Linked DNA regions of Homo sapiens. The protein of the gene in region 3 interacts with the protein of the main gene of each other region in a biochemical or structural test. Each region holds a gene or a part of one and is shown on either strand. Other genes may lie near its edges. The genes, in order: CCDC88A, GREM1, KDR and VEGFD.

What was found.
Region 1: the proteins of KDR (region 3) and CCDC88A form a complex in vitro, tested with the Homo sapiens proteins (one study listed by BioGRID).
Region 2: the proteins of KDR (region 3) and GREM1 interact in a biophysical measurement, tested with the Homo sapiens proteins (one study listed by IntAct).
Region 4: the proteins of KDR (region 3) and VEGFD form a complex in vitro, tested with the Homo sapiens proteins (one study listed by BioGRID).

The regions. Positions count from the first base shown.
Region 1 is NC_000002.12:55,416,814-55,424,099, reverse strand, and holds the start of CCDC88A (girdin), read left to right. Parts: upstream 1-4,243; 5' UTR 4,244-5,020; coding exon 5,021-5,083; intron 5,084-5,183; coding exon 5,184-5,284; intron 5,285-7,286. UniProt on the Homo sapiens protein: Bifunctional modulator of guanine nucleotide-binding proteins (G proteins). Acts as a non-receptor guanine nucleotide exchange factor which binds to and activates guanine nucleotide-binding protein G(i) alpha subunits.
Region 2 is NC_000015.10:32,712,684-32,721,035, reverse strand, and holds the start of GREM1 (gremlin-1 isoform 1 precursor), read right to left. Parts: upstream 3,033-8,352; 5' UTR 2,875-3,032; exon of another isoform or gene 2,672-2,874; intron 2,553-2,671; exon of another isoform or gene 2,171-2,552; intron 1-2,170. UniProt on the Homo sapiens protein: Cytokine that may play an important role during carcinogenesis and metanephric kidney organogenesis, as a BMP antagonist required for early limb outgrowth and patterning in maintaining the FGF4-SHH feedback loop.
Region 3 is NC_000004.12:55,101,494-55,108,858, reverse strand, and holds part of KDR (vascular endothelial growth factor receptor 2 precursor), read left to right. Parts: intron 1-965; coding exon 966-1,122; intron 1,123-2,048; coding exon 2,049-2,172; intron 2,173-2,918; coding exon 2,919-3,027; intron 3,028-3,874; coding exon 3,875-4,216; intron 4,217-6,350; coding exon 6,351-6,497; intron 6,498-6,830; coding exon 6,831-6,962; intron 6,963-7,365. UniProt on the Homo sapiens protein: Tyrosine-protein kinase that acts as a cell-surface receptor for VEGFA, VEGFC and VEGFD. Plays an essential role in the regulation of angiogenesis, vascular development, vascular permeability, and embryonic hematopoiesis.
Region 4 is NC_000023.11:15,381,049-15,388,334, reverse strand, and holds the start of VEGFD (vascular endothelial growth factor D preproprotein), read left to right. Parts: upstream 1-3,921; 5' UTR 3,922-4,388; coding exon 4,389-4,478; intron 4,479-7,286. Other genes in the region: PIR (pirin), read left to right, coding at 3,219-3,331. UniProt on the Homo sapiens protein: Growth factor active in angiogenesis, lymphangiogenesis and endothelial cell growth, stimulating their proliferation and migration and also has effects on the permeability of blood vessels.

The DNA.
Region 1 (7,286 bases), on a different chromosome or scaffold from region 3:
TGGCCTAGCTAGCAAGCAGAAAAGGGTATTCTGGACAGGGATGGTAGCATATGCAGAGGCACAGGCATATGGGATATTACTGTGAATTTGAGAAGGTTCACTTTGGAACACAGAAGTAGGATGTTTGAGAAGAGCAATTGATACTGGCCTGAAAGGAGGACCCCTTCTCTCTTCCCTGTCTTATCTTTCCAACTTTCCTCTCCTCTCCTCAGTTGAGGTACAGGACAGAGCAACGAGTCCACTGGTCTCAGCAGAAGTCCAGTAGAGAATGAAATCAGTGTGCTCATTCCCTACTGGGGAAACTGATGCTCAAAAAAGTTAAGCAACCTGCCTAATTTCTCTTTCTCTCCCTGTATTATATTTCCTCTTAAAACTATCTTGGGTAATTAAAATATAAGCCTTCTGTGTTCCTAGGTGATTTAAAAATCTTAATTATTAGATCAAGGCACCCTTTTAAAAAGTCTATTAGAGACTAGATTTCTTGATGACTTAAAAAAAATCTTCATGAGGCAATGGTGCCATTCTTTTTTACAAAGGTTTATTGAGACATAATTCACATTCCATACAATTCAGCCATTTAAGGTACACAACTCAATGGCTTTTAGTGTATTCACAGAGTTGTGCAACCATCACCATGATCGTTTTAGAATATTTTCATTTTCTCAAAAAGAAATTTCACATCCCTAAATCATCACTCCTATTTTCCCCCAACTTTCCCCCAGCCCTAGGCTAATCTACTTTCTGTCTCTATAGATATGTCTTTTCTGGACATTTCACATAAATGGAATAATACAATATGTTGTTCTTTATGACTTTCACTTAGCATAATGCTATCATCCATGTTGTAGCATGTATTAGTACTTCATTATTTTTTATTGCCAGATAGTATCCTATTATATGGATATACTGCATTTTATTTATTCATTCATCAGTCCATGGACATGTGGGTTGTTTCCACTTATTGTCTATTATAAACAATGGTGCCATTCTGCTGCTGCATTTGTGGTATTTTTCTTGTACTAGCTTACGAATGTGATTACCTTTGCAAATCCGTACTTAAAAATATTTGTCACCAAGGAAACTGGTTCTGGATGAGTCTATCACTTCCTATAGTGTAGATCAAGATAGACATGGGTAGAAGTTCATATGGGTGCTTTTGGTACATGGGTTGTGTTATTCATATGCAACCTGAAGGAGAAAGCCTCAATTGTGATACACGGGAGACAGTCTTTCTCTAGAGATTTCTAAATGGGACCATGGTCCTTTCTAACCATTTAGTTTCAGATTAGAAGACAGCTGAGCAAATAACTTACATCCTAACCAGGTGGGTATGATTTTTCCAAACTCCTTTCATGCTGGATTTAACCTTCCAAGAAAGGATGCATTCAGGACACATAAATGACTACAAAGTACAAAACAAAAGTATTTTGAAGAAATCTTAAGAAATTTCTTCCTAAGTGAAAGGTGGATAGGAAACTTTTGGATTTAATCTTACAGGATGTTGCAATTCAAAGACCATTAAACTGGGTATAATGTACAATCCCTCTTTAGCCAGACAGAGAAGATTACTGGTTGTACTCTTGAGATATTATAAAGCATTTTTAAGGCTGCTGTTAAACTAGGGAATTGTGAATTGGTAGGTTTTCAAATAAGTTCCTCCAGACCTCAGTCTGGTCTAAAGTTTCCTGTTTTTACAATTAACTCCTCATGTTTCTTTGTTGAGTGTGTGTGTGTGTGTGTGTGTGTGTGTGTGTGTGTGTGTGTGCGCGCAAAACCTAAAGATAGACCAGAAAGCATCTGGGGCCATCTGGCTCTAGAGAAGAATCCAGATTTCTGTGAGGGCTGGGTACTAAATTGCATAAACAATACTATCTTAATGTATGACTCCTGTGCTAACCCTTCAGTCACCACTTCAAAATGCCCCTAACCTGCTGTATTTGGTGTTAATACTTTTTGGTTTTTCGCCTATGAATGAAGCAGATTGATTTGTCCTAGGATAAACCCAGTATAGGCATAATTACTTCCATATTGTTTTGTCAAGCGTCTGGGGGATTACAAAGAAAAGTGGGTATGTCAAGCACTGGGCTGCTCCTGAAAGCAATGCTGTCTCCTTGGTGCCCACTCTCCTTCTGTCTGTATTTCATTTGCCAAATAAAGAACTGCTATTAAGAAAGAGTTATCAGGCCAAGCGCGGTGGCTCTCACCTGTAATTCCAGCCCTTAGGGAGGCCGAGGCGGTGGATCACTTGAGGTCAGGAGTTCGAGACCAGCCTGGCCAACGTGGTGAAACCCCGTCCCTACTAAAAATAGAAAAATTAGCCAGTGGGTGGTGGCGGGTGCCTGTAATCCCAGTTACTTGGGAGGCTGAGGCAGGATAATCGCTTGGACCCTGGAGGTAGAGGTTGCAGTGAGCTGAGATCGTGCCACTGCACTCCAGCCTGGGTAATAGAGACTCTGTCTCAGAAAACAAAACAAACAAAAAAAGAAGGAGTCACCAAGCCAGGCGTGGTGGCTCACACGTCTCGTCTCAACTGCTAGGGAGGCTGAGGTGAGAGGGTCACTTGAGGCCAGGAGTTTGAGGCCAGGCTGGGCAACACAGTGAGACTCCCATCTCTAAAAGGCTTTTTAAAAAGTCATCAAGAGCAGATGGAAAAGATTGCTAGCAACAAGGATGTCTGAAGGCTTGTGTACTGGCTAGGGAAATGCAAGGTTCTACTTGTACATCACCTAGCAAAGTGCCACATGAATGCATCCTAATTTTAATTAAGATGATTTTCAAAGGGCATTTAGTTCCCTCCTCAAAGCAAGATCCTTTCTCCTGTAACTGAAGCAGAGAGGTTATATTTCAAGTTTTTCATAAAGGTTCTTTATTTTGAAGGAATAATGTTAAAAACAACATTAATGACATTTATAGAACACTTAACTATAAGCTGCCATTTCATTTAACCCTATTATTAGCCCTGCTTTACACGTGACGGAATCGAAGCACAAAGAGACTCAATAACGTGCGTAGGCTCACACAGCTGGTGCATATTGGAACCAGGCAGGAAGACTTCAGAGTCCAGGTTCTCAACTACCCAATTAAGAAATTCTGCTCTTTCTTAACTGTGTTATGACAAAAACATTTTTACTGCTAATTTAAAATATATACTCCGTGTAAATATTTATGTAATGTAAACATAGCACACATTATAAAACTATAATATTATCTTTTATCAAAAAAAGATTGCGTTCTATATGCCCATTTTACCCCGGGAAAAAGGTCTTTATTTTCCTTTGAAATGAGGAGTAGCATTTGATTTTGCCAGGGAACTTAAAATTATTTCAAGGTCCCAGTCGTACGTGGCATGGAGATTTATGACAAATATGTAATCTGTTTATTTGTCACCCAACTTGGATGACTTCTAAATGTTTCTTCTTTGTAGCTCTTGATTTTGCTTGGGTTTCCCCCGACCCATGCCCAAATAGTAAAAAACAAAACAAAACCAAAAAACAATGTCTGAGTCATGTTTGCTCCAGTCAGGGAATACCAACGTGCTGACAGACAGCTCTGGTTTTTAAAAAATCTTACTGTATGTCACTTGCAACTTTGAAGAACATTCATGCGTTAGTGGACTGCATTTGGAAGAAAACAAAAAGGAGAAAAAAACCCCCACCAAGTTGTGGCTCAAGTCCCTCTGCCATTTGCTGCAGTGAGTTTTCCTATTCCATTTTGCTGGGGAGAAGGCATGCTTTACAGAACACATCAAACTGTCCGAAAAAGGCTGTCTGCATCCCTCATGTTTATAAGAGAAGGATTTCTTTCCCCTTCCTTCACGTATCAAAGAAGTCACTCGGGGAGGAAATAAACCATAATTAGGCATGAGCGAGCGAGCAGACAGACCCCTTGCTCTGCCTTCCCTGTCCCCGCCCACCAGGCAACCGTCCTGGGCGCAACCGAGGAGCGGGTTGTCTCCGCAGCAGCTGCAGCGAGCGCGCGCCCACGCCCGAGCCCGCGCCCGCCGCCAGGATCTGGGCGGCGGCGAGGCTAGCCCGGGGGCGCGCTCGCTCGGGAGCGCGCTCATGCAGCGGTTTTCTTCTCCCACAATCCAGAGGCAGCTGCACGGGAGGGGCGGGGAGTCGGCGGAAGGATATCGGCGCGGAGGGAGCAGCGCGCTCCCTTTGACGGCGGCCCCCGGCATTGGCGGGCGGCGCTGGCGGGCGGCGAGGGGTGGGGTGTGATGCGGCACTGCGGTTCTGAGGCCGTTACTCCGGCTTCTCCATAGAGGGCGGAGAAGGCTGGAGCGCGGCGGTGATTTTGTGCCAGGGATTCCCAGAGACGCGCTGAAAGGCTGGCAGGGCTTAGGAAGCTGGGGGGTTAGGGACACACATTCAAGCCCCCACCCCCGGGAGGGGAAGGGGGCTGGAGGCGAGGCTTGAGGGCGGCGGAGGAATGGTGTCTGCTCGGGGGGAAGGGGCGAGCCCTGCCTGTTGGTACTGAGGGGCTGCGGGCAGTGGAGGCTCCGCGGGTCGAAAGCGGCTCCATGCCCATCGGTGGGTGGAACGTGTAGAGGTCGGAACGCCGAGGTCGAGTCTGGTGGCGCCTCGGTATCCTTAACGTGGTCTCTGTTTAACGTATTTCATTTAGCCCCCGTTGGGATTGATTCATTGGGAGCAGTTTCGCTGGTCTGGATCCTCCAGGAGCTGGACAACCTTGACGGGCTTTTTGTCTTGGGTTCCAGCCCCCTTTCCCTTCCTCCTCCTCCAGATGCCTTTTCTCTGCCCCTCCTCGCCCGGTACAGACATTTCCAGCGCAGGCTGCTGCTCGTGGTGTCCGTCGTCGAAGCCACTTCTTGGGATTTCGGCTCGTTTCACTCTGGGGTGTTTTTTGAGGAGGGAGAGTGCCCCCCTCCTCCACGATGGGATTTTTCTCCCTTGCCGAAATGGACTTTCATTGATTTCTACTTACTTCCACGTTTAGTGACCAATTCCCTAGGCGTATTTTTGTGGTAGTTCCTTTTTTCAAATACATACTCTGTAAAATGGAGAACGAAATTTTTACTCCCCTTCTGGAGCAGTTCATGACCAGCCCTTTGGTCACTTGGGTAAGTGGGGTGTCCTTTATTGTATATTTTGCTGAGTTATTTGTGGCTGCAGAGATGGAGGTGGGCGTTCATGTCGTGGTGATCCTTCTGTTTGTTCTAGGTTAAAACGTTTGGACCTCTGGCCGCAGGAAATGGGACCAACCTTGATGAATATGTGGCTTTGGTGGATGGGGTATTCTTGAACCAGGTCATGCTCCAAATGTAAGTTCTTCCTTCTTTCCTAGGTAACGTTTTCTTTGAGAAATAGCATATGGTGAACTTTGAGACACGATGTTTTAAGCCCCTAATTTGGTTCATTGGCCAGAAATATTCAGGTGGTTTAAGAATTGGATCTTGAAAGGAATGCTAATGTTATGGGCTCAGCCCATTATCACAACCTAGATATTTTACCTGTTAAAATTGTGAAACTTTAGTTTTTCATTCTGTCAACCATGTATTGTCACTTGTCTTCAGTACTGAAATCCAAGCCACATTGTGTATTCTTTGATAATTTGGTAAAATAAGAGAGAAAATGAGAATCTGGTTTCCTAAGAGAGGAAAAAAGACTTTACTGTGAAGTTATGTGCATTTGATGCAGAAATGTTTCTTATTAACCTTTATATCTAGAAATAAATGGCTCAAAATTTGAAACTCGTTAAGTAATAGCAGATTTCAGAAGAGAAAATTTCAAACAGTTCTGATTGGTGAGGACTCTTGCTGTAGTAAATAATTTAAATGCCTGTAATAACTAAAGCCTGATGAGATGATTTATTGTGTGAATTATTAGGTTGCTTAATATTTTAGGGATCATTTTAAGGTATTCTTACAGGTTTTGAAATGCAAATAACAAGTCTTGATAACAATTAGATAACGACTTATTGGGCAAATCTTTGTCTTTTGTGTTTATAATATTGGGTTTGTACTAAGTAGGAAAGTATGCTTTTGAGATGGGAATTGAATAGTGAAAGTATATTGGTAGCTGGATCAGTAAAATTAAAACTCAGCTTTTATCTAATTACAGCTATTGTAGCATACGTGTATTCTAAGTACGCTAATGTAGTTTATCAAACTGAATTTTTCAGTTGTGCTCAAAGTAATGTATACTTAGTCTTATTTCTCTTTAATAGAATCTGATGAGAAGAGGTAGTTTGGAACTTTTATATGTATGGGAAATTGGTGTGTTATCAATAAATAGTTGTTACTAGAGAATAAGTCTACCATTCTGCTCTGATAACCTTATCAATTTTGTATTTTATTGGTTTAGATTTTTATGTTTAAGAGGGTAGAAGTCACATCTATAAAAAATTGCTCTCGTGTTAACTTCTCTGTGTGCTCAAAGAGATTTGTGGGCTGTTTTTCATGTACATGTTGATCCTACAGGGAAGTATTATACTATTATACATTTTCAACCAGTGTTTTGTTTTCATAGGCACCCAAAGAAATATATATGTTATCTAAATATGTATATATTTATTTTTTTCCTTAAGAAAGGAAAAAAGAGCGTAGACATCAATTATTTCCAGGGTTAGTAAATGTATTTTTGACAGCTGTGTAATGGAATTATTTTTTATCCTCAAAATATCTGACTATTTCCTAAGCAAAATGGTAGGATAATAAACTGACTTCTCTTTTGGGGAACCTACATGACAGAAAGGGTAGCCATTACAGTAGATACTCAGAATTTGTTCCCCTGTGTCTCTTTATTGTGCTTATTTTTAGACGGAAGATTTTGAATTTGTGTGCTAAAAATGTGTGTTCACAAAAATAGGGAAATATATTACTTTAGTTTTCCACTTTAATGGTTTTTATTTGAATGATTCTTTTTCCAGAAAAATTTAGATTTTTTTTTTGCATCCTAAATACTTAGCTGAGGTGCTAAAAACAAATACGTTAATTTCCACTTCAAATGCAGTTTTATGCTTAAAAAATATATGTATATTTTGAAAATGACGGTATTCCAAAATAGTGTTTGTCAGGTTGCTGTTTTTCATGAGGACTAGCTCCTTTCCAAACCACAAATCTGCTTCTGTATTTTCAGTTCCACCTCTCAGTTTCTTTAGATTTTTTTTCGGTGTCCTAATTCTGTTGTAAATGACCTATAAAATTAAAGGAAAAGAAAAGAAAAAAAAAGTATACTTTTGCTTTGTTTGAATAATTTGCTAAAATAAGATCAAATTTATCTTAATAAATTATTTAACTGATAGGGCAACAAAATATACATTGT
Region 2 (8,352 bases), on a different chromosome or scaffold from region 3:
TGCAGGCATGCACCACCATGCCTGGCTAATTTTGTGTTTTTAGTAGAGACGGGATTTTTCCATGTTGGTCAGGCTGGTGTCGAACTCCCGACCTCAGGTGATCCGTCCTCCTTGGCCTCCCAAAGTGCTGGGATTACCGGTGTGAGCCACTGTGCCTAGCCCAGCCAGCAGTTTAAACCCAATTCTATCTAGCCCCAAACACAGGTCCTTAACCACTGTCCTATTGACACCCAGTGCTGTCCTTAACAGTGGGTCAATGGATATGTTTTCTAATGCAATACAATTTGAAGAGTGCTATAAATAAAATAATTATCTATTTTGTATCTTCATGTTCACATGTGAATAAAAAGATTTCTCTTGTCCCAGGAATTCCTGTTGTACTTTGAATTTCTAAGAGCATATGTTAAAACTAAAGAAAATTCCTTGCAGATCGAAGACACGGGCTGGTAGCACTTGCCTGATGGTTGCCTTTTGGTTAGAGGCTGCAGTCACCTCCCCTAACCACTGTCCCCCACCTGCCTTTCCTTTACATAAAAGGTTTATATTTCCTGGCTGTCCTTTACTCTCTGTTGTGGAACATGTTCCACAGCTTTGCTGTCAACAAGCAGTTCTTGGGGGAGGTGTCTGCGGCATGAAATTTCTTTGCATTTTATCACTTTTAATACTTGACCATTCAGACTGAAGGCATCTTCGGCTTAGTTTCAAAGACAGGGTAGGCAGCCCTCATTCAGAGATGTAGGACATAAAAGGTTTTTATCCTTCCCTGTGTAACTACTCACATAAAGACCGCATTAGCCAACCTGGATTTCCTACAGAGCGTGGGTTACCAAAACATTTCACTAAAAATGAACTTTTAAGAAAATAGGAAACCTGTGAAATTACAAAGTTTACAAAAGACTCTAATTCCTACAATGACCTGGAGGTTAAACACACACACACAGACACACACACACACACGCACACATACTGCCACTACCCTGCTAAAAATCCCTGAAATAGTTAATATTAACAATTTGACAGTGCCATTTATCCAGAGATAGTAATCAAATCACCTACTGTTATAGACTTGGCTTGGGGGGCAGTGAGAATATATAGTTTTCTTAAGATCTTTCCCTCCTTGCTTTGAAAAGTACATCCCCCCCTCAAGACTCTCATGCTCCCCCTCCTTCCAAAAAAAGAGAAAAGGGGAGGGGGAAGCCCTAGGGATGAAAGAGGACTCCTCACCCTAGAATGGGGTTATCTTAACCTCTTCTACGCTATTTATTTAACTTGTGTGTACAGCCAGAAGGAAGCCACTACTCTGGGGTCCCTGGGACAGCTTAAAACCCTAGTGACCCACTTAACACAATAGATTGTTTTAATCAGTTCGTGTCCTGGCACCATCTCGAAGGGGAACATAAACAGACGCGCACACCGCTCAGATTTGCTCTTTCCAGCAGGAGATCCAATTACCTATCGGTGGTCACCTCTCTGCCCTCGGACCGTTTAAGAGGGGGATTTTAACCCCTAACGCTGAGGCTGTATTTCTGTCTATAAGAGCCGAGATTCGGAGTCGGTCGAGGAGGGGAAGGCAGTAGACGGATTCGACCCGGGAATGCATTAGGGACAGCTCCGGGCGCGCAGGAATTTCTTCACAGCAGAGGCTGGTCACCTGCCGTCCGTCCCTCCCCGCCTGGCCCGGTGACCGTCGCCAGAGCCTGGCGCAGGCAAATAAACGCCAAGCTGGGGCACCCCCAAGGAGGAGCTGCGATCCGAAGGCAATGCCAAGCGAGAGCGGTGGCGCGTCTGTTCTTCCGGAGTCTGTAGTCTACAAATAACTCCGGCCAGCAAGGAGGTGACAGCCCCAATATACCTCCCACTCCCCTGCTATGGCCTTGCTCCGCAAGCTGTGGAGGGGCCAGCGGAGCCAGCCAGGCAGCGAGAGAGAACGAAAGACGCCCAGCTCGTTGCAGCCGCCAACCCGCCTCAGCCGCCAGTCCCTAGTCCTCAGGAGCTAGTGAGGCGCTGCAAGGCGAGGCTGGGGCCTCTAGAACACAGTTTAAGGGGTGCGCGCGGAAGTGGGAACCAGCCGGTGGCCGCTGCCCGGCGCCAGAACGTCTACCATTCAGCCCGGGCGTGCGCGGGGCGGGGAAGAGGCTGGAGTAGAGAAGCGAGCGCCCGCGAGTGCGTGGCCGGTCCGCGAGCGCGTGTGGTGTCTGCCTTGTGAGCACTGCGGGTTCGCTGGACCCCGCGGCCAGGGCCGCGCCCCGCACCGCAGCTGTCGGATTACCCACCGTTCGGTTTTCCGCTGTGGCTGAACACAGCGGCTCTGCCCTTGCCAGTCTCCATCTCACCTCGGGGATCGGCAAATGCACACATCATGGATTCTCCGGATGCTCCAACCCGCGGACTCCAATGGGCGCCCCAAGACGCCCCCAGACCCAGCGCGGCGCCCCAAGCACATGGGACCCTCTCAAGGCAACTCGCCGCGCAGTCAGCGGCCGACTAGCAGGTCCGGATGCTCCTGCGCTCTGGCGGCCTGGACTTCGCGCCCTCGCTAAGCGGGCGCGTCTGCCAGGCGCTGCTGCCACCAGCACCAGGAGCGTGTTCGGGGGCCTCCGGGAGGTGGAAACGGGATGTGGGGGTCATCCTGCCCGCTCCTGACAACTTTTTTTCCTACGTTTCCCTGCAGACCCAGAGCAGCGAGGTCACGGTGTCCGCGGCCTCAGCAGGAAGGACCCCGCGATGGTTCTTCACAATTCACCCCCGCGAACAACGCACCCGAGCCTGCGCGCACGGAGGGCTGCCGCGCGTGGAACTGAGCGGGTCCTGGGTTGGTTTGCGGCCCTCTTCCCTCCGCCCACTCACATCCCTGCCGGGTGCGTCCGCGCTCACCTGTCAGTGCGGCGGGTCCTCGGGGCCTGCGCTTTCGACGCGTGGCGCTGAGTGCGGCCGCGGCCAGAGCCGCCGGGGCTCGGCGCGGGGTCAGCGGGACCGAGAGTGACGCGGCGGCCGTGCACTGGGTCGCCCGGTCCGCGGAAGGCGCACCGAGTGCCAGGCATCGCGCCGTCTCCCGTTTAAATGCCGGCGGCAGAGCGCGGCGCCCGGGGCCGCGCCTCTCCATTGGCCAGGCGCCGCCGCCGCCGCCAGACCCGCTATCCGCCCCCTTTCCCGGTACTGCCCCCGCCCCCCGCACCCCTCCTGCTTCCCCGCGGGGTCCCCTCTCCGCCCGCCTCGCCTCTTTGTCTGCTCCCCCCGCCCGGGCCGGCTGGGAGAGGTCACCCCAGGGAACCGCGCCTGGAATGCACAGCAAATCACATTTTCCGCTCCCGTTGGAGAGGGAAGAGCGGGAGGAAATCCCCCCGGCTGGCGGCCCCTCATTCCTTCTCTGCCCCAGGTCTGGGCTTTCCCTGTCGGCCGCCCGGCATCGCCTGCGTTGGTCCCGCGCTCAGTAGCGGAGACTGCGCTGGGAAGAGCGAGATCTCCGTGGGATCGTGCCAGATTCGGCCATTCTTCCCCTCTGGAGGGAACGGGACTGCGGGATGCTCTGGTCGAGCGGCCGTCGTGGCTCCCCGGCGGCCCCGCCCGAGGCCCCCAACTTCGAGGGCGCTGACCCCGGCGCCCCCGTTAACCTGGCGGGCTCGCTGGCCGCCAGCAGGAGCCTGTCGCCAACATGACACCCTGCTCTCCTCGCCCGCCAAGGGTTCTTTCAGCCCAGATGCCGGCGGCCTCCCCTGTGAGTGTACAGAGGGGAGTCACGGGAGGAGAATAAAACTAAATGACCGTCAAAAGTCAAGGCTTCTGTTCCTAAATTATCTTAAGAGACAGAGAGAAAACAGCCACTGGGCGAGAGGGGTTTTCTGTAGCATATCAAAGACGAATAAGTCAGGAAAATAAAACGTTAGATGAGGAAGTAACTTCCCAGAAATTTAGGACAAAAACCTACCGACGTGTAAAACCAATGTCACATTCCGGATACCAAGTACATAAATAGTTTTCGAAAGATGAGCGAACACTTTCATTTGTTCTCTTAGCCTGAAAAATTGGTTCCTCAAAGAGGCCGTAAGTTTTGTGTGTTGAAGCTAAAGTCCGTGCAAAAATTAACACGTCTGCAAGATCTGCAGACCAGCTCCATCAGCCACGTCAAATGAAGACTTTGAAAAAGATTTGCTACAGAAGGAAATATGAAGGTGTCTGTATTGTCTAACGCGAAATAAACAAAACAATGAAATCCATCAAAAGATACTTACGAAACACCCGTAATTTAAGTACTTGACTAGGAAAACAAAACCAGACCAGAAAACAGCCTATTTTTTTTTTCTCTTTAGTCCGGCGTTAGGGGGAAGAAGCAAGAAACATCTACTAGATGCTGTTAGGAACGTGAAATAGATATTTTTAAATAAATGAAGCAAGAAGGACGTCTGCATTAGTATCCTTAAAATCTTAGTCCTCTCAATGTTTTGTTTGTGCAGATGGCAGTTTCTACACATGAACTCGAGGCTGCACTTTACAATTCTCAATCAGTTGTTGTTAAGTCATGCAGTGAGCCACAGTTTGTAGTTGCCTACAGAATGGGAGCATTGAACCAGCTTGAAGACCTGTCTTGCTCACGTGGGCTCCTGGAGAGATAGGTAATCAGAAATACACAAAATACTTAGGCGATGACCAGTTCAGTCGAAGCCCACCACCAAGCTGTATTGGAGCCAGCTGTTCTCCCAACGTGCAAACTGCTGTACTTCTCCCCACAAAAGGGAGCATATTTTACAAATTCATTAAGTCCTCCTCATCTAAAATAAAAGCTTTAGTCACTTCTTTTTTTCCCAAGACTTATATACTGCCCCAAATCAAATACAAAGAAGCTGAAATTACCTCCCAAAATGGAAGTGATTTTTTTTTTTTGGAGCCCTGACACTGTGGTTTTCTCTATCTCCATGTATCAAATCATGATGACTCTTCCTCATGCAGTTTCTCAGGCCATATTTTTTATAATAGAGCCCCCACCTCCTCCCCACAACACACGCCCCCTCTCTGTATCCCAAAGAGATAGAGAGGGCTATGCATCACTGCATCATTTTTCTTCATTCTCATTTCTCTCTCCCTTCTCCCTGGCATTATAGTATTTCCTGCCACTAGAATGTAAGGTTCATAAGGGCAGGGATTTTGTCTAGGTCACTTTGATTACATGAAGCACATAGAATATAGATTGTCTAACACAGCACTCAGATTCAATAAATAGTTGTGGATTGAGAATGTTGAGCACATTCCCACTAAGATTGTCAGCTGAACCAAATGCTGAGGGTATAACCATCGTGGATAGGATAAACACAGGCCCTCACCTCAAAGAATTTATAGTCTAGTATGTTTGTAAATATTTATATAGAAACACAAGTTTTTTGCCCAATATTTGTGTTTCCACAGCTCCTAACAAGTTCTTGCAAACCATTGTCCAATCAGGAGGAAGGCATAAGGATAAAAACTCCCTAGACCGCTCTAAACATGGTTACATAACTAAAACCTGCTTTTAGTAAGGGGAGAAGAAGTAGAATGACTCGATGTAGTCATGCCTAAACCATGATGCCTAAACCACGATCACTAAATGATTAATTTTATTTAATGAAAGTACTTTCAAACTACTTTGAGGTTGTGAGAAGAGTAGATTCTGCTCAGCCACTGGTTCGTAAAAGTAAAGTCCATTTCCTCTTTTTTTGCCCACCTGTGTTTGGAATGTGCTAGCCTCTCTGTAACCCCAAGAAGCTAAAAGAGGGCTACTCCCCAGGTTTGGAGAATAACTTTGAAGACCTTTAGAGAAGAGTTTTTACTTAGATCTGCAAAAGCTATTTACAGCTGTTCATCCAATTGCAGAGACTACGTATGCTGTCTTGCATAGGATTAAAAAAGAATAAAGCCCTTTACACAGTTGGAACTGACCTTGTATGCCCTTTCTAAAGAAAAAAAGTATTAACCTATAAACTTGATAATGATTAAGTAAAAACATATTTACAAGAGTCAAATACCAGTTAAATGGATCATATTCAGAATGAATTTTTCTTATAAGTTAGTAAGAAAAAAATCCCCACAAATAACCCAATAGGAAAAAAAAATTGCACATGGCCAAAGCACATGGGCAGGTAATTCACAAAAAAGAAACCTGGACAGCCAGTAAATATAAAAAGATGCAACATTACACCAGTAAATCAGAGAAATATAAACTGAAATGAGAAGATACTGTTGCTTATCTACAAAGTTACCAAAGATCTAAAAGTCTGACAATATCCAGCAATGGAAAAGGTAGAGAGAAGCAAGCAAGCAAATGCATTGCTAGTGAGAGGGTAAATTAGTACCATCATTTCAGAAAGTAATTTGTCAATTTGCATTAATATTAAACATGCACTTAGTATGCCACCCAGACATTACACTTCTAGGTAAACACCTTAGAAAAATTTGAACGTGTGTATGAGGACTAGAAACTTGTATAAGCATGTTTATCAAGGTATTGTTTGTAACAATCTTAATGTCCATCAACAAATATAGGAGAAGGCATAAGAAATTATTTTATTCATATGGCAAAATGCTACATAGCTAATAAAAGAAATTGATTAGATTTTTATATTTTAACATAGAGCTCAAAACATAGAGATGCTTTTTTTTAAAAAAAAAAGGAAGCTGCAGAATGATATAAGTAGTATGATACCATTATGTGTATTTTATAGTAAACATATAAAAATAGCATAAATTGCTTGTGAAACATATGGTCATGTGCATGGATAAATAGTGACTTGGAATCCATACCTTTAATGATGTTCACCAGAATGAGGAGGGGAGGAGGTGGATCAGGCATGGACGACAAAAGAAATTTCAACATTACAAACCATTTAAAAATCTTATGTCTTAAAAAAAATCTTGAAAGAAATATGACAAAATGTGGACAATTTGAATTTCTGGGTGATGGGTACATGGATGTGTTTGCTAGATAACTCTCTCTACATGTTGATAATGTTTTAAACCCTCAAATTTAAAACAAATGTGATGTTTCTATTATGATTTCAAGAGTGATTTTGAGCATCATTTGTAAACTGAACATTTTTGCTTCCCATGTGTTCTTTGTAACAAGCTCCAATCTGAGTAGGCATGCTTTCAGAATGCAAACAAGCCCTTATGTAAGTGTGTATGTCTGCTGACCTGTCTGAGGTGTATGCCTAACCAGTTTCCTGTGTATGGAAAATGCACGTGCATGTGAAAATTCTGGACAATGTTGCCAAATACAGGTATATGGAATGAGTTATTCAGGACCATTGTAATACAATTCTTGCCCTATTTCATGCACATATTTATTGCATATACTCCACGTGCAGTGCAGTATCAAAAGGTGAAGGCTTCAAACTGTGAACATAATCCTTCACAGTCAATAGTTCTGGCACAGTGGGAAAAAGCACGGAACTCGGAGTCAGGAAAGTCAGAGTAAATTCCTGATACTTCCCCTTAGAAGCTGAATGTCTCAATTAGGTATTTAAAGCCTCTGGGCTGAAATTCAACCATCTGTATTATAGGAATGGTGATAACACCCACTTCTGGGTAGATGCTGGAATTAAGTAAAACAAGCTCTGTGAAAGTGCCAGGCACCTAATAAACATCAGTGTCTGCATAGATACTAGAGTTCAACTGGGAGCTAACACAATAAAACAGTAAGTCTAATATCAGCGTCTGCTGGGTCTTATGTATCTTTTTTTTTTTTTTTTTTTTTTTTTTTTGAGGCGGAGTCTTGCTCTGTCGCCGAGGCTGGACTGCAGTGGCGCGATCTCGGCTCACTGCAAGCTCCGCCTCCCGGGTTCACGCCATTCTCCTGCCTCAACCTCCCGAGTAGCTGGGACTACAGGCGCCCGCCACCACGCCCGGCCAATTTTTTGTGTTTTTAGTAGACACGGGGTTTCACCGTGTTAGCCAGGATGGTCTTGATCTCCTGACCTCGTGATCCACCCACCTCGGCCTCCCAAAGTCCTGGGATTACAGGCGTGAGCCACCGCGCCCGACCGGGTCTTATGTATCTTTATATTCACTCTGGGTAACGCAGGGGTGGCACACGGCAAATGCTTGACAAAGCTATGAAATGAGTACTTGCACAGGGAGAAGGAAGGAAGGGAGGAAGAGAGGAGAAGAAAATAAGGGGAAAAGAAAGAGATAGAGGAAGAGATAAAGAGAGGGATGGAGGGAGGAAGGAAGGAAAGAAGGGAGAGAAAGGGAAGGAGGAAGACAGGAAAGAAAATGAGTGATACCTTCCAGTAAATGGCACAACAACTTTTTTTTTTTTTTTTTTTTTTTTGTAAAACCAGTAAACAGTTTTACCAAACACTTCTGGCTCTTTTTTGCCTGCACTAC
Region 3 (7,365 bases):
AAGCATAATCTGAGGCTTTAGGTTGACAGTAATAAGGAAATAGTTTTGACTTTGGAGTCAAAAAAGAAAGAAAGGAAAAAGGGAGAGAAGAAAGAAGGAAGTGAGAGAAGGGAGAAGGAAGAAAGGGGAAGAGGGAAAGGGAGTGGAGAGGGAGGGAGGGAGGAAGAGGGAGAGAGAATGAAAAACTCAGATGATGGTGGCAGGAATGCATTCTCTAAAGATTTACACCTTCCTTTAACATGAGGTGGTTTACGTGTTTGGGTTCAGAAGTCAGAGTGTCTAGGTTTGTTCCAGGTTTTGCCGTTCGTTAACTGAGTGACCTTGGGCGAGTCATTTTTTTCTGTTTCATTTTTTTCTCACGTATAAAGCTGTGGACAGTAATAGTGGTTGTGAGGATTAAGTGAATGAATTCATGCAAAGCACTTCAAACAATGCTTGGCACATAATAAATGTATTTACTGTGCTATTTCAGCTGTTTTCTGTAGCCTTTCCCTGATCTCCTAAACTTGAGAGGACAGAGAGAACTATCTCTGTAATACAGATGAGAGGCACAGGATTTCAACACTTCCATAAAGTCATTCAGCTTGTTAGTTTATTATTATTATTAGCTTATTGTCATTTTTATTTTATTTCGTTACTTTATTCCTTTTTTTTTTTTTTGGTAGAGATGGGGTCTCACCATGTGGCCCAGGCTGGTCTTGATCTCCTGGGCTTAAGCGATCCACCTACCTTGGCGTCCCAAAATACTGAGATTACAGGCATAAGCCCCCATGCCTGGCTAGTTGTTATTTTTATGAGTATCACTAGAACTCAGGTCTCTTGTTTCCACATCTAGGTGTTCTTCGAAAAAGAAAGTGGAAGCAAAATCATATGCTTAAAGAAAGTCAGCTTTAGTTGCTAAAATCCTCTATTTCCCATTCTTCAAAGCTGACTGACAATTCAAAAGTTGTTTTTCCCATCTTCAGTCCCACCCCAGATTGGTGAGAAATCTCTAATCTCTCCTGTGGATTCCTACCAGTACGGCACCACTCAAACGCTGACATGTACGGTCTATGCCATTCCTCCCCCGCATCACATCCACTGGTATTGGCAGTTGGAGGAAGAGTGCGCCAACGAGCCCAGGTGAGTAAGGCCACATGCTCTTTGCTTTCCTGCCATCTTGCATTTCTTACAGCTGAGCTATGATATGACTCCATCCTAAATGGAGAAGCCTAAACCAAAAAAAGTTTTCTCTCAAGAGGTAGCCTGAATCTCCATCCATCTTTCTCTGTGTCTTACATTTTAGGGGATGTCTTTGCTTGGAGTATCCTCCTTTGGGGTTAGCTAAGCTCAGCCTTGTTAGGTTAGCCGTGAGGTACACTTCTCCAAACACAGGCTATTTGCTCAGTTTGCTAATTGCCAGTCTTTGGTTTTTCTCCCGATACCAATCGGCTGGTGAATACCACATCCCTCCTTCTTGTGTGTGTGAAGATCCATCTCTCAGAGGAAATGCTGATAGATGAGAGGCAGTGATAGACCCAGCCCCAGTCCTCAGGGTCTCAGGCCCAGCTTATCATGCTCTGACACAAGTCCAGACATCCTTAGGGAAAAACACAACAACAGCAGCCAACCCACCACCACCCTAAGCAGTCCACTTCCTGTTGTTGTTTTTGAAATGGCCACTATGAGCTTCTTCCTCAGCTGCTGATCATTTCCTTCACAGAGACCATGGTCCCAGAGAAATTACTTTAAGGAGCCCAGTGGCTTCTAAGTTTCCTTGCCTTCCTTTGAACTAAATTAACTTGAATTGTCTTGTCGATCCAATTTATGAATGAAGGTTTATTCCCAGAATAGCTGCTTCCCTCCTGTATCCTGAATGAATCTACCTAGAACCTTTTCCTTCATTGTCAATGCCTATTTTTAATTGGCGCCAAGTCTTGTACCATGGTAGGCTGCGTTGGAAGTTATTTCTAAGAACAGAATAACCAAAGTCTGAATCTTTTCCTTACTCTTGACTCTAATTAAAGAAAAATTAAATCATAATATGCGCTGTTATCTCTTTCTTATAGCCAAGCTGTCTCAGTGACAAACCCATACCCTTGTGAAGAATGGAGAAGTGTGGAGGACTTCCAGGGAGGAAATAAAATTGAAGTTAATAAAAATCAATTTGCTCTAATTGAAGGAAAAAACAAAGTGAGTTTGAAGTTTTAAAATTTGAAAATCTCTCTCTCTTTAATGGAAGGATGGTACAATAATATGTGAGGCATATTGGAGATTAATAATCAAATAGTCTGGATGATTAAATAGAGCGTATTAAGTCACTTTGAAAATACCATTGACTTTTAGCAGTACCATTAACTTATTAATAGCTTATCAGAGAAAAATAAAAACATCTATGACATTAAATCTATGCATCTGTGTAGGGTGATTCTGATTTTATAAACATGAGAATGAAAAAATGTGTATCATATCATATTAAAACACATCATTAGTTTCATGGCTTCCAAAGCCCTTTTTATATAATGTGTGAGCTCCACAGCAGCATAATTATACAAATTGAGTAAATATCCCAAACCTAAAAACCCCAAATCCAAAATGCTCCAGATTCTGAACCTTTTTGAGTGCCGACATGGTGCTCAAAGGAAACGCTCGTTGGAGCATTTTGGATTTTCAGATTAGGGATGCTCAACTGGTAAGTATACAATGCAAATATTCCAAAATCCAAAAAAAAAAATCCAAAATCCAAACCACTTTTGGTCCCAAGCGTTTTGAGTAAGGGATACTCAACCTGCAATTGCATAAATTTGAGCGTGTCCAACCGCTGCAGAAGTGGGAATGGCATAGGCAGGTTGGAGTGATTGTGGAGACTGCTGGACTGAGTGCTTGTGCACAAACAGCCGCGTTGTTTATGGCCTGGGATTTGTTTTTTCCCCGCACAGACTGTAAGTACCCTTGTTATCCAAGCGGCAAATGTGTCAGCTTTGTACAAATGTGAAGCGGTCAACAAAGTCGGGAGAGGAGAGAGGGTGATCTCCTTCCACGTGACCAGTAAGTACTCTTCTCTGGAGGTTTGGGTTGGATCACTCACACAGTGGGTACTAAGCTATGTAATTCCCTGTTGTTTTTGCCATTCATGTGAGTGGCATGGCATTTAGGAAAGAGGACTTGGATTGATCATTGATGCTTTCATTCATAAATTACAACTTCTCAGGTATCTCCTGGGCTTATGTGAAGTCAGTGCGTCTAACTACACTGGAGAGAGAATGGTTTCACAGATGCTTTAAACCACAAGCTCTGTGTGGTATTTACATCTCAGTCTTCAGAGTCTGGCACAGTGCCTGGCTTATTGAGCTTCAGTACATATTGGTGGGCTTGCTGTGGAACAGTTGATGAGGGTGGGCTTTATGGAGGCAATCAGAAGGACATAGGAGCAGTGCCCTCCCAATGCTGCCGATTTTGCCTGTGCATCTTAGTTTTATGGATAAGCTTTAGCTGATTGTGCTGAATGGAATATTATAGCCAGGGCTAATTCATTGGCATAAATGTAGCTTTCATATCATTGAGTGTTAGTGTTAATGAAGACCTAATTTTAAAATTCTGTTAGAATTAGAGATTTTGCTTTGGATTTTTAATATATTAAACATTGCGTAGAGCTCATAGTGGAGATGTGGTAAATATCTGAGGAATTCGTTTACATTTTCAAGTAATGTGTTTGGCCAAATAAGATATTTTGGGACCTGAATTGTCTAGTTTGTTTGTCAAGTTGTAGTACATCACCTGGAACGGATAGAGCTTCATTTCTTTTGGTACTTTGTAGTAGTCTGAAAGCAGCAAGATGATAGTGAGCTGTACCAAGTTAAATCACCATTCAATAACTATGGCCTCTTCATTTTAGGGGGTCCTGAAATTACTTTGCAACCTGACATGCAGCCCACTGAGCAGGAGAGCGTGTCTTTGTGGTGCACTGCAGACAGATCTACGTTTGAGAACCTCACATGGTACAAGCTTGGCCCACAGCCTCTGCCAATCCATGTGGGAGAGTTGCCCACACCTGTTTGCAAGAACTTGGATACTCTTTGGAAATTGAATGCCACCATGTTCTCTAATAGCACAAATGACATTTTGATCATGGAGCTTAAGAATGCATCCTTGCAGGACCAAGGAGACTATGTCTGCCTTGCTCAAGACAGGAAGACCAAGAAAAGACATTGCGTGGTCAGGCAGCTCACAGTCCTAGGTAGGGAGACAATTCTGGATCATTGTGCAGAGGCAGTTGGAATGCCTTAAATGTAGTGCAATTCAGGTGCTATGCAAAGATTACTGTCCTCTAGGAGATTATGTTGTAAACTGGTGCACACTTCTTCACCGAAAGTCCTTGAGGAAGAAAGAAGCTAATAATAATGAAATGATATATCGAAAGGAGAAAATAACAAAACCTGATGATGGAGTAATTCACTAGTATATGCAAGGGATATTAGCTTGAACCAGGGAAACTTCTGCCTTATCTTGGGCATCCATTTATTTAAATAGACAAATATTTGTGGAATGCCTGCTATGAGCTAGGAGAGTGTCAGAAATTCACAGTGGTAAACATGAAGGAAAGGAGGAGAACATAGGCAACCACTGGGAAGTCACAGCACAGTGAGGTCTCTGTGTCCATGAGAACAGGAATTGTTCTCTGTTTTGCTCCCTGCTATAGCTCTAGTCATAGAGCATAGCAGCATATACTAACTGCTCAATAAGGCACCTGCTGCATGAAGAGTGGGATGATGGGCTGCGTTTAAGACCTAGAAGACTCCATGGGAAGGAAGCTACATTCACTGTCTGTACCTCTGGGTCATCCCACATGATCCAGCGTAGCCCAAGGTCAATGGGACGATCACTTCAGTGAGCAGATAGCTCTGTAAATTCCTCCATAGAGGCACTGTCTACCCCTTGTCTAACCTCATGCCTTGTGCAAAAGCTGGGCAGCCATGGCTTTGTCTGTGGGAAAATCAGGCAAATTTGGGGAGCGTCTCTTTGTGCCACTTCTCTCCATTTTCTCCTCTTGTGGTGTCCCTTTCCAATTCCTAGGATATATGTGCCCTCTGTTTTTTTTTTACTGTTAGGAAGGAAATTGCCCAAGTAAATTCATCTATACCACAGTTTTAGAGGGTAACGTCTTCATCAGAGGCCTTGGCGTATTTGAAGAGGCACCTTCTGACAGACACTAGCATAAAGTTCGCTAGTTTTAAGACTCAGGTGTCATAATAAGAGATACTTTGGGGTCAAGTCATCCCCAGCATCCTTCAAGTCACACCACATAGATCACATGGATTTTCTGTTGGCTTGTCTGGCTTCAAGGTTATGGCAGAATTGAGAAAGAGATGTGAAGTAGGCTCCTGGCCTAGCTGTGCCCAGAAAATATGTGCTCGCAGTTAGCTGCTTTGCTTCCCTAAGGACTCCTAACTTGTTTTCCTAAAACCTATTCTTAGAAATAGGCTAGAATCCAGTACATTTGCTTAGACTTCAATGTAGTACGCTGTTGAGGTAATCTCATTTTGCTAAGTGTTGACGTGGATTTTTTCAGCATGATTCCTTTTGATGTTCAGTTGGTTGGGACAAGATATTTCCACAGCACTTTGATGATCTGAAGAAAGAATAAATCTAAAGTGTTCTTGTACACTTAAACAAATACTCATGGGCTTCATTTTCTTTAAATCCAAGACTTCCCTTAGGGTATTGTTGTTTTGTTTGTGTTTTAGTGGAAATAGCACTGAACTGGTCTTTTAGCCTCACCAGATTCTGTAAACAGTTCAACTGTTTACTTAGTTGCAGGGACATGGACAAGTGGTTTAATGTCGCTGAACATCATTTATTTCATCTGTGAGATAACGCTAACAGTCCTATTCTGCTCATTACATAAGATCACTAGTGAGGAACACAAATTGTGTAAACAAGTTTTATAAGAATTGCCAAATAAATGTAAGGCATTATTGGTTGAATGATACTAAAATTTGGCACTTCCAAGAGAAATTTGAAGGGATTCTAGGGTATTATTGACTAGAATCTTCATGGGAGGGAAGTTTTCACCTGGGGAGGCTGTGTCTAATTAGAGGAAAAATCCATAAAGGTGACCCTGAACCTTTCTTTTGTGATGGGATTACCAGCTAGTATCACTAATATGAATGTTAAAAGCCATTAATCTGTTTGCAGTGTCCTGACTGACTTGTTTCATTTAACTTTACCCAGTGACCAGTGTATTTTCCCAGAAGTTAATATATCAACAAGTTCCTTTTTACTAAATTTAAACTGTTTAAAAGTTTGCTGATACCAGAACCATTTCAAAAGTTATAATTCCATGTTCTGTGATTTTCTTTTTGTGTGTCTAGAGCGTGTGGCACCCACGATCACAGGAAACCTGGAGAATCAGACGACAAGTATTGGGGAAAGCATCGAAGTCTCATGCACGGCATCTGGGAATCCCCCTCCACAGATCATGTGGTTTAAAGATAATGAGACCCTTGTAGAAGACTCAGGTAAATAGAATTTGGCTATCACTCTTGGGTTGCAGAACTTTCCCAGGGATGTTATCTAAAAAGCCATATTATTTCTTGATGTAATGTAGAAAAAAAGCAGTATTGGTGTCCATGACCTGGCTCATTTCACAGACTTAGAATTGGAGTATGGGGCCCTGTTGAATTTTCATGAAAGCCATATAGGAGATTAGTCAGCAGTAGATCCCATGTGACTCTACAGAGTTAGATAATAGAACAAGATGAAGGGCAGCATTTATATTTTCTAAATTTCCCTGAAAAACTTCACAGACTACATCATCATAAATGAGAATGATCGTTTTCTTCCTCTGTTAGGCATTGTATTGAAGGATGGGAACCGGAACCTCACTATCCGCAGAGTGAGGAAGGAGGACGAAGGCCTCTACACCTGCCAGGCATGCAGTGTTCTTGGCTGTGCAAAAGTGGAGGCATTTTTCATAATAGAAGGTCAGTGGGATAAAAAAAAATGTGGTACATATACACCATGGAATGCTATGCAGCCGTAAAAAGGAATCTGATCATGTCCTTTGCAGCTGCATGGATGGAGCTGGAAGCCATTATCCTCAGCAAACTAACACAGGAACAGAAAACCAAACGCCACACATTCTCACTTATAAGTGGGAGCTGAACAATGTGAACACATAGACACAGGGAAGGGAACAACACACACTGGGGCCTACTGTGGGTTGGGGAGAAGGAGAGCATCAGGAAAAATAGCTAATGCATGCTGGGCTTAATACCTAGGAGATGGATTAATAGGTGCAGCAAATCACCATGGCACATGTTTACCTGTGTAACAAACCTGAGCATTCTGCACATGTATCCCGGAACTTAAAAGAAAAAAAGAAGG
Region 4 (7,286 bases), on a different chromosome or scaffold from region 3:
CTTCTCTAATGGAAAGCGATTGTTAGCAGTGGAGCTGGGACTCGAACCCTAGTCTCCTGACCCCATGTCTTATGTTCGCTCCACTATACCAAAGTTCTACATAACAAGAGGTTAGACACACCATTTTATACAAGAGGGGGGCTTCAGAGGCTTAATTAGAGAAGTGATGAAAGCTATAATTTGAAAGAGAATTATAGGTAACTATCAAATAATTTTCTTGTTCACAACCCTTGTAGTTGATCAATTTAAAAACATGCTTTCTGGATTCAGTTTTCTCCTTGAAGATTTGAGGAGATAAGCTTCATCAGTTAGCTTTAGGGGACTCTAAGCTTCCAATGCTTCCCTGTATAACAGAGGTTATACTTGTTTCCTAAAGTGTGGTCCATGGACCAGCAGTATCAGCATCACTTGGGAGATAGTTAGAAATGCAGAATCTCAGGCCTCACTCCAGACCTCCTGAATCAGAATCTGCATTTTAATAAGATTCCCAGCTGATTCATGTGCACGTTATAAATTGAGAAACATGGCAGACTACCCCAGAAAGTGTCAAAATGGAAGCCTAGAAGCACACCATTCTTACAGAAAACAGTTGGGGGATGGGAGTACTGCTCCACAAGTCCCAACCATAGCAAAATTATGAGGCACAAGAATTTGGTCCTTGACTCAGTACCTGCTCCCATCTTCCAAGTTGCATTTCCCTTTCCCCTGCGTGTCCTTTAAAAAGTTGTCTTCCCCAGGGTACCCTCTTGGGTTTATTGTTTATTCTGCATATGTTAACTCTCTTTTTCTTTCCTACCTGATATAGTCCAAACCTCCATTTCCAGATGAAATTTCTCTCATGAGCTCCAGATCCATAGTTTCAACAATGTACCAAAAACCTCTGCTTGGGAAACCACTTTATTGTCTCTAGTACTTCTATGTTAAAATACTCAGAACTGGGCCGGGCGCGGTGGCTCATGCCTGTAATCCCAGCACTTTGGGAGGTCGAGGCTGGCAGATCACTTGAGGTCAGGAGTTTGAGACCAGCCTGGCCAACATGGTGAAACCCAATCTCTACTAAAAATACAAAAATTTAGCCGGGCATGGTGGCACGTGCCTGTAATCCCAGCTACTGGGGAGGCTGAGGTGTGAGAATTACTTGAACCCGGGAGGCGGAGGTTGCAGTGAGCCAAGATCGCACCACTCACCACTGCACTCCAGCCTGGGCGACAGAGCAAGACTCGGTCTCAAAAAAAAAAAAAAAAAAAAAAAAAAAAAAAAAGAAAAGAAAAGAAAAACAAAACAAAAAATATCCAGAACTGAACACCTTGCTCCATCCAAAGCCTCCCACGTCCTGTATCTCAAATACCCTTAACAATTCCACCATTGACTCAGCCTCCCAAATTAGACACCTGCTCTTCTACCTTGATGCCAAAGTCTTCTTTAAAAATTATAAATCATATTATATTACTCCCTACTTAACCTTACAGTGATTCATAATCACCTGCAAAAGTAGGTCCAAACTTCTTCCTGTAGATTGCATCCAAAGCCCAGAAGGGTCTGGTTTCTTCCTATATTTCAGATCGCCATTTTTTCCGCCTTTGATCCCTCCTTCCACCACTGTACCCCTATCCCCTCCAGTATTCCTCCAGCATACTAAGCCTGAACATGCCTTTCCTCCGTGTGTGACTGCTCAAACATCACTCCCTCTGTGAATCCTTTCCTGGATTTCTCCTCCTCCCCCTTTCTGTGTTGATTTTATAGTTTTTACACTTTTATCCTTCCATATTTCAAACAGTTTTGTAATGATTTCTTTTCATATCTGTGTGATAGATTTGAATCCTTGAGGAGAGGGAGTCTGCCATTTATTTGTCTTTCATCTTTATGTCTCTAGCTTCTAGCACAATGTCTGTCATTTAATGGGCATTCAGTACATAATAGATAGGTAATTGAATGAATGGATTTAGATGCCTGGGTGTTTTCTTTCTACTTGTATTCTATTCCCCACATCCTCTCCAAAGATTTCAGCATCATCAAGACATATTATCCTGTGTCTTCCTTCTGAAGATTTAAATTATAGTGATCACCAAATCCATGTTGATATGATAACAATGGTTAAGAAGTTTGAATATGTTATTTTCTCTAAGCAATACAGTTGTATATTAATCAGAATCTCCCAGAGAAAGCCCCTTAGAGCAGGCAGTTCCATAAAAGGAATGTCAGGAACTTCTGCAGGCTGGATGAGGACATACACTGAGTGAACAAGTCTGTCAACTGCTCTAAAGACACTGTCAATGCCATATAAAAGCTGGCCTTGTTCATCTAGCAGATCATGGGGGTGAGACAGTCCAGTGCCTCTCTGCCCCTACAATATATGAAGAAAGGGGAAGAAACACACATTGCCTCCTGGTAGATTAGGGGAGGACTTCTTGTACATTTTTAGCAAAATCCGAGTTCAGACCCAGCAATTAGACAAAAGGGTCAGCAAACTATGGTCGATGGGCTACATCTGCCCACTGCATGTTTTTGTAAATGAAGTTTTATTGGGACACAGCCATACCTATTCACTTTTGCATTATCTATGGCTGCTTTTGCACTTTGATGAAAGAGTTGAGTAGTTGAGACAGACACTGTTTGACCCACAAAATCTAAAATACATACTATCTAGCCCTTCCTAGCAAACATTTGCCAACCCCTAGAAAACTTTTAAAAAATGATGCTCTTCGACTTGAAATTTTTATAATCTTCTGTTTATTGTCAATAGGTGCTGCTGATTTTCAAAAAATGACTTAGAATCCTCAAATAAGTATACAGCCTTATATGCTGCTTAGACACCAAAGCTATGATAAGATTTGTCAGTTCTTTGTATCAGATGGGTTCAATTCTTGACATCAGCTAATGTTATAAAAATAACTACAAAATTGGTTGTAATAGAACCAAATCTAAGACTCTTTTTAATAAAAAAGATCACCATTGCTGGTGAGAAACCTATACTGAATGGGTGAGATGCCATTGCATTTATCTGAAGTTTCGTCTTTATAATCAATAATCATATACAATCCTAGTCAAGAAACTCATCTTACAGTCCTTGGGGATTGAACACTGTGAAAATAAACTTTTACTCTTCGGATGTGCTTGGATTTTGTTTTAAATTAAGAACTACAGAAATATATATCATTTCTAGTGGTAGAGGAAAATATTGCCACCCAGAACTTTCTGAATGTCTCTTTCTGCCCTAGGTCCATTTGTGATGAACACCAATGAAGAGATTTCTCAAGCTATTCTTGATTTCAGAAACGCAAAAAATGGGTTTGAAAGGGCCAAAACCTGGAAATCAAAGATTGGGAACTAGTGGAAAGCGGAAGAGCAGGTCTTGATGTGTCCTAGAATTTTGCCATTTCTGAGATTGAGCCATTGAAGGCATTCCATTTCTAAAGCTTATTTAGCCGGTGCTTCTAAAGAATTCCACACTAACGTGATAACATGGTTTTTGTAACAATAAATGTAGGATATTTCCTGGCACATGCAAATAAACCTAATCATTGTTTCTTTAAAAATCAGTGTTTTTCATTTGAGATACCTAAGTTACTAAGCTTCTGTTTAAAAAGTCGTTTTGTGTATGTTTGCCTTTTTTTGCATGTATGGATGGATGTTTTTATTATTTTTGTGCATGTGCAGGTTTTAAAAATCATATTTGATTGCTTTCTGTGTGTCATTGGCAGCAGATGCATGAGCATCTGAGGTCCCTTCTTAAGCAATCCCACTGAGATACAAAGGTCAAAGCTATGTGCTGGGGTTTCATGTTACAGGTTATCTGCTTTAAAATAACGGCAGCCCTGAACATTTGAGTCAGTTCTTAAAACTGCCCTGCTATTGGTAGGGACGCAACAGGATTACAGCCAAGACTTCTCTGCATTTTCTGCCAAAATCTGTGTCAGATTTAAGACACATGCTTCTGCAAGCTTCCATGAAGGTTGTGCAAAAAAGTTTCAATCCAGAGTTGGGTTCCAGCTTTCTGTAGCTGTAAGCATTGGTGGCCACACCACCTCCTTACAAAGCAACTAGAACCTGCGGCATACATTGGAGAGATTTTTTTAATTTTCTGGACATGAAGTAAATTTAGAGTGCTTTCTAATTTCAGGTAGAAGACATGTCCACCTTCTGATTATTTTTGGAGAACATTTTGATTTTTTTCATCTCTCTCTCCCCACCCCTAAGATTGTGCAAAAAAAGCGTACCTTGCCTAATTGAAATAATTTCATTGGATTTTGATCAGAACTGATTATTTGGTTTTCTGTGTGAAGTTTTGAGGTTTCAAACTTTCCTTCTGGAGAATGCCTTTTGAAACAATTTTCTCTAGCTGCCTGATGTCAACTGCTTAGTAATCAGTGGATATTGAAATATTCAAAATGTACAGAGAGTGGGTAGTGGTGAATGTTTTCATGATGTTGTACGTCCAGCTGGTGCAGGGCTCCAGTAATGAACATGGACCAGTGAAGGTAGGTGAGCTCAATTTTTAATGTGATGAAGTTCTTTTTATTGGCTCATACAGAGGACTTTCTTTGCCCTCACTATTTTTGAAACAATATAAAAATGCAGAACCATCCTAGTAGTGGACTGGACAGGATATATCCTGCATTTCTTGGTGACTGTTCTGTTTCTTAGTCTTATTAAACTTCTGGCCATGAGTATTTGAAAATGCTGGGGTGGGGGTTGGTTGTTTTTTGAAGTTATGGTAGAACATGAGCAGTCTGGAATCTTTTTGGATGGAGAAGTTTCTCCTCGGTTGCATATGCAGATGGCACAGTGGTTTTTTAATGAAACATTGATTTGTTTTTATGACTGATAACTTTGTGGGCCATTTATTTTCAGGTCTTTGTGAGCAGCAGAGGTTAGTTTATTCGTTTGGTAAATTGAAAATTGCAGTGCTTTCTATGAACATTTTCTATCTGCTTTTGCAAATTACCAATTGCTGCCATCCAGAAAAATGTTTTCTCAGAGAGTGTTTGGTTTTTTCGCTTCTTGAAAGGTGTAAAATTCAACACTAATCAAATCTTTGGTTCTGTGAGCAAGCATCAAATAGAGCTTAACGAACAGAGAGTAATGCAAAAAATTAACCAGAATGTTGCTGACTGCTGGAACAATACTTAGCCCAATTTTATGCATTTCATGGATTATATATATTTTAAGCTTCTATTTTGAAAATGATTCGGATGTAATTGTTTTGACTGAAGTGGTGCTAAATCATTATTGATTTAGGAACTTCTGGCCTTGAAAAGACAATTAAATGTGAGTTTGAGTTTTTGTAGCTGTTGTTTAGGACGTGCATTTTCAACAGGGGTGATATCGCCCCCAGCAGGGGAAAATTGGTTCGTGGAGGGATGAAAAAGTTTTACCCTTTTGATACATCACGCACAGACGTACATACAGTACATATGGTATGTAGTTTAAAATACGTTATACATTCAAATTGCATAGGGGGAAAGTGTCTTCAAAGGCTCCTGGCTGGTGTTGGTGGCCTGGCGAGGGTGGGGGCTGATATTTAAAAATGTTGAACACTGAGCTGGAGGTGAGTGGGAAGTCACCTTGTCTGGCAGCCAGCACTTTTCTAACTTCTCAAATTCCAAATTTACATGGGAGAAATCACAGTGTTTGGCTCCATTTTACTGCCACCAGCCTTGATATTGGATCTCAAGGCCAGATTGTAGGTAAATGGGAATCTGACTGTAAGCATAGGTAACAGGAGAAAACGGTCTGACTTGTTTGAAGCAAGTAAGACTTTTCCGACTGTCCAGCTTTTTCGTAAGTTCATGAAACAGAAATCCTTTAGATGTGCTGGGCTCCTCGAGTTTTAAAATATTTCCATTTTCCTTGTAAAACATCACTTTATCTGATGGTATAATAAAGGAGACTGAATTGTTGGACATAAGTCATATTCTTTAGGTTGCTCAGCTCTTTCAAAGAGCACAAGCACCAAGAATGTCTCAGGTGTCCTGGGCACTGTGAAGTTTTATTTATTTATTTATTTATTTATTTGAGACGGAGTCTCACTCTGTCACCCAGGCTGGAGTGTAGTGATGCAATCTCAGCTCGCTGCAACCTCTGCCTCCCGGGTTCAAGTGATTCCCCTGCCTCAGCCTCTCGAGTAGCTGGAATTATAGGCACGTGCCACCATGCCGGGCTAATTTTTTGTATTTTTAGTAGAGACAGGGTTTCACTGTGTTAGCCAGGATGGTCTCGATCTCCTGACCTGATGATCTGCCCGCCTTGGCCTCCCATAGTGCTGGGATTACAGGCGTGAGCCACCGCGCCCGGCTGGCACTGTGAAGTTTTAAATGCTTTGAATGTACTGTTAATATATAAATTTGTTGAATGGAGTAACGAAGGAAAGCAGCTGAATTTGCATGTGACAGAAAACAAGTTGTTACACGTGGAGGATGCAGCATTATATACTTACTAATACGATTAGCAATTTTTTTTCAGAATATATCAGAATTTCCTTTAAAAAGTGAAGCTACATATACTGAACTTATATCCACCCTACCCCTCGCTCAATTAAATTATTTCTGATATGAAGGAAAGGATTGCCTATAGCTAAACAGAAGTTTTGGCATAGATATGACTGAGTGGTAAGGGATAATGAGATATATAATATTGGTTATAGTTTTCTTTTTTCCCCAACTTTTAAGAAAAGAAAATCTAAGAGGAAATAATGTTTCTAAATGTTAAAGTTCTTCTTGTTAAAATTAAAATGTAGTGTGAAAACATATTCATGGTGGTAATGGTTTAGGGTGGTGGTATTTGAATTTTTTGTTTTTTTTTTTTTACTTTTTGAAATAAAATGTTTTATTTATTATAAGAAATTCATGGTCTTCCTCGGTACTTGGTCCATATGTATTTCTTTCTCCTCACCCTCCCCTCTTCTAACCACCTCTTTTCCAGAATGGATGGTGATGCCAATTTTGCTCCTAGGTTGTCCTCCAGCCACCCCCAGCCCAGTTTTCACTTTCTAGCTTTGAAGATTGTCCAGTTTTCCAGCTTAGACTAGCATTGCCTCTACGATAGTTCTAGGTATCTGTGAAGATTTTTTTTTTTCCTGTAGCAATCATGAAATAGCTACTAGTGCTCTGGACGATTGTGCTTAATGCCATTTGGGTGTAAGGCCTCCTAATTTCATTAGTCTTACCACTTGTGTTTGCAAGGATAGCTGTTTGGAGTCAGCAGTGCATGGAACATGTGAACTGAGACAAATCTGTTTGAAAATCTCAACTTAAGATTTCAAATCCACTGTGTATACTATTTAGCTG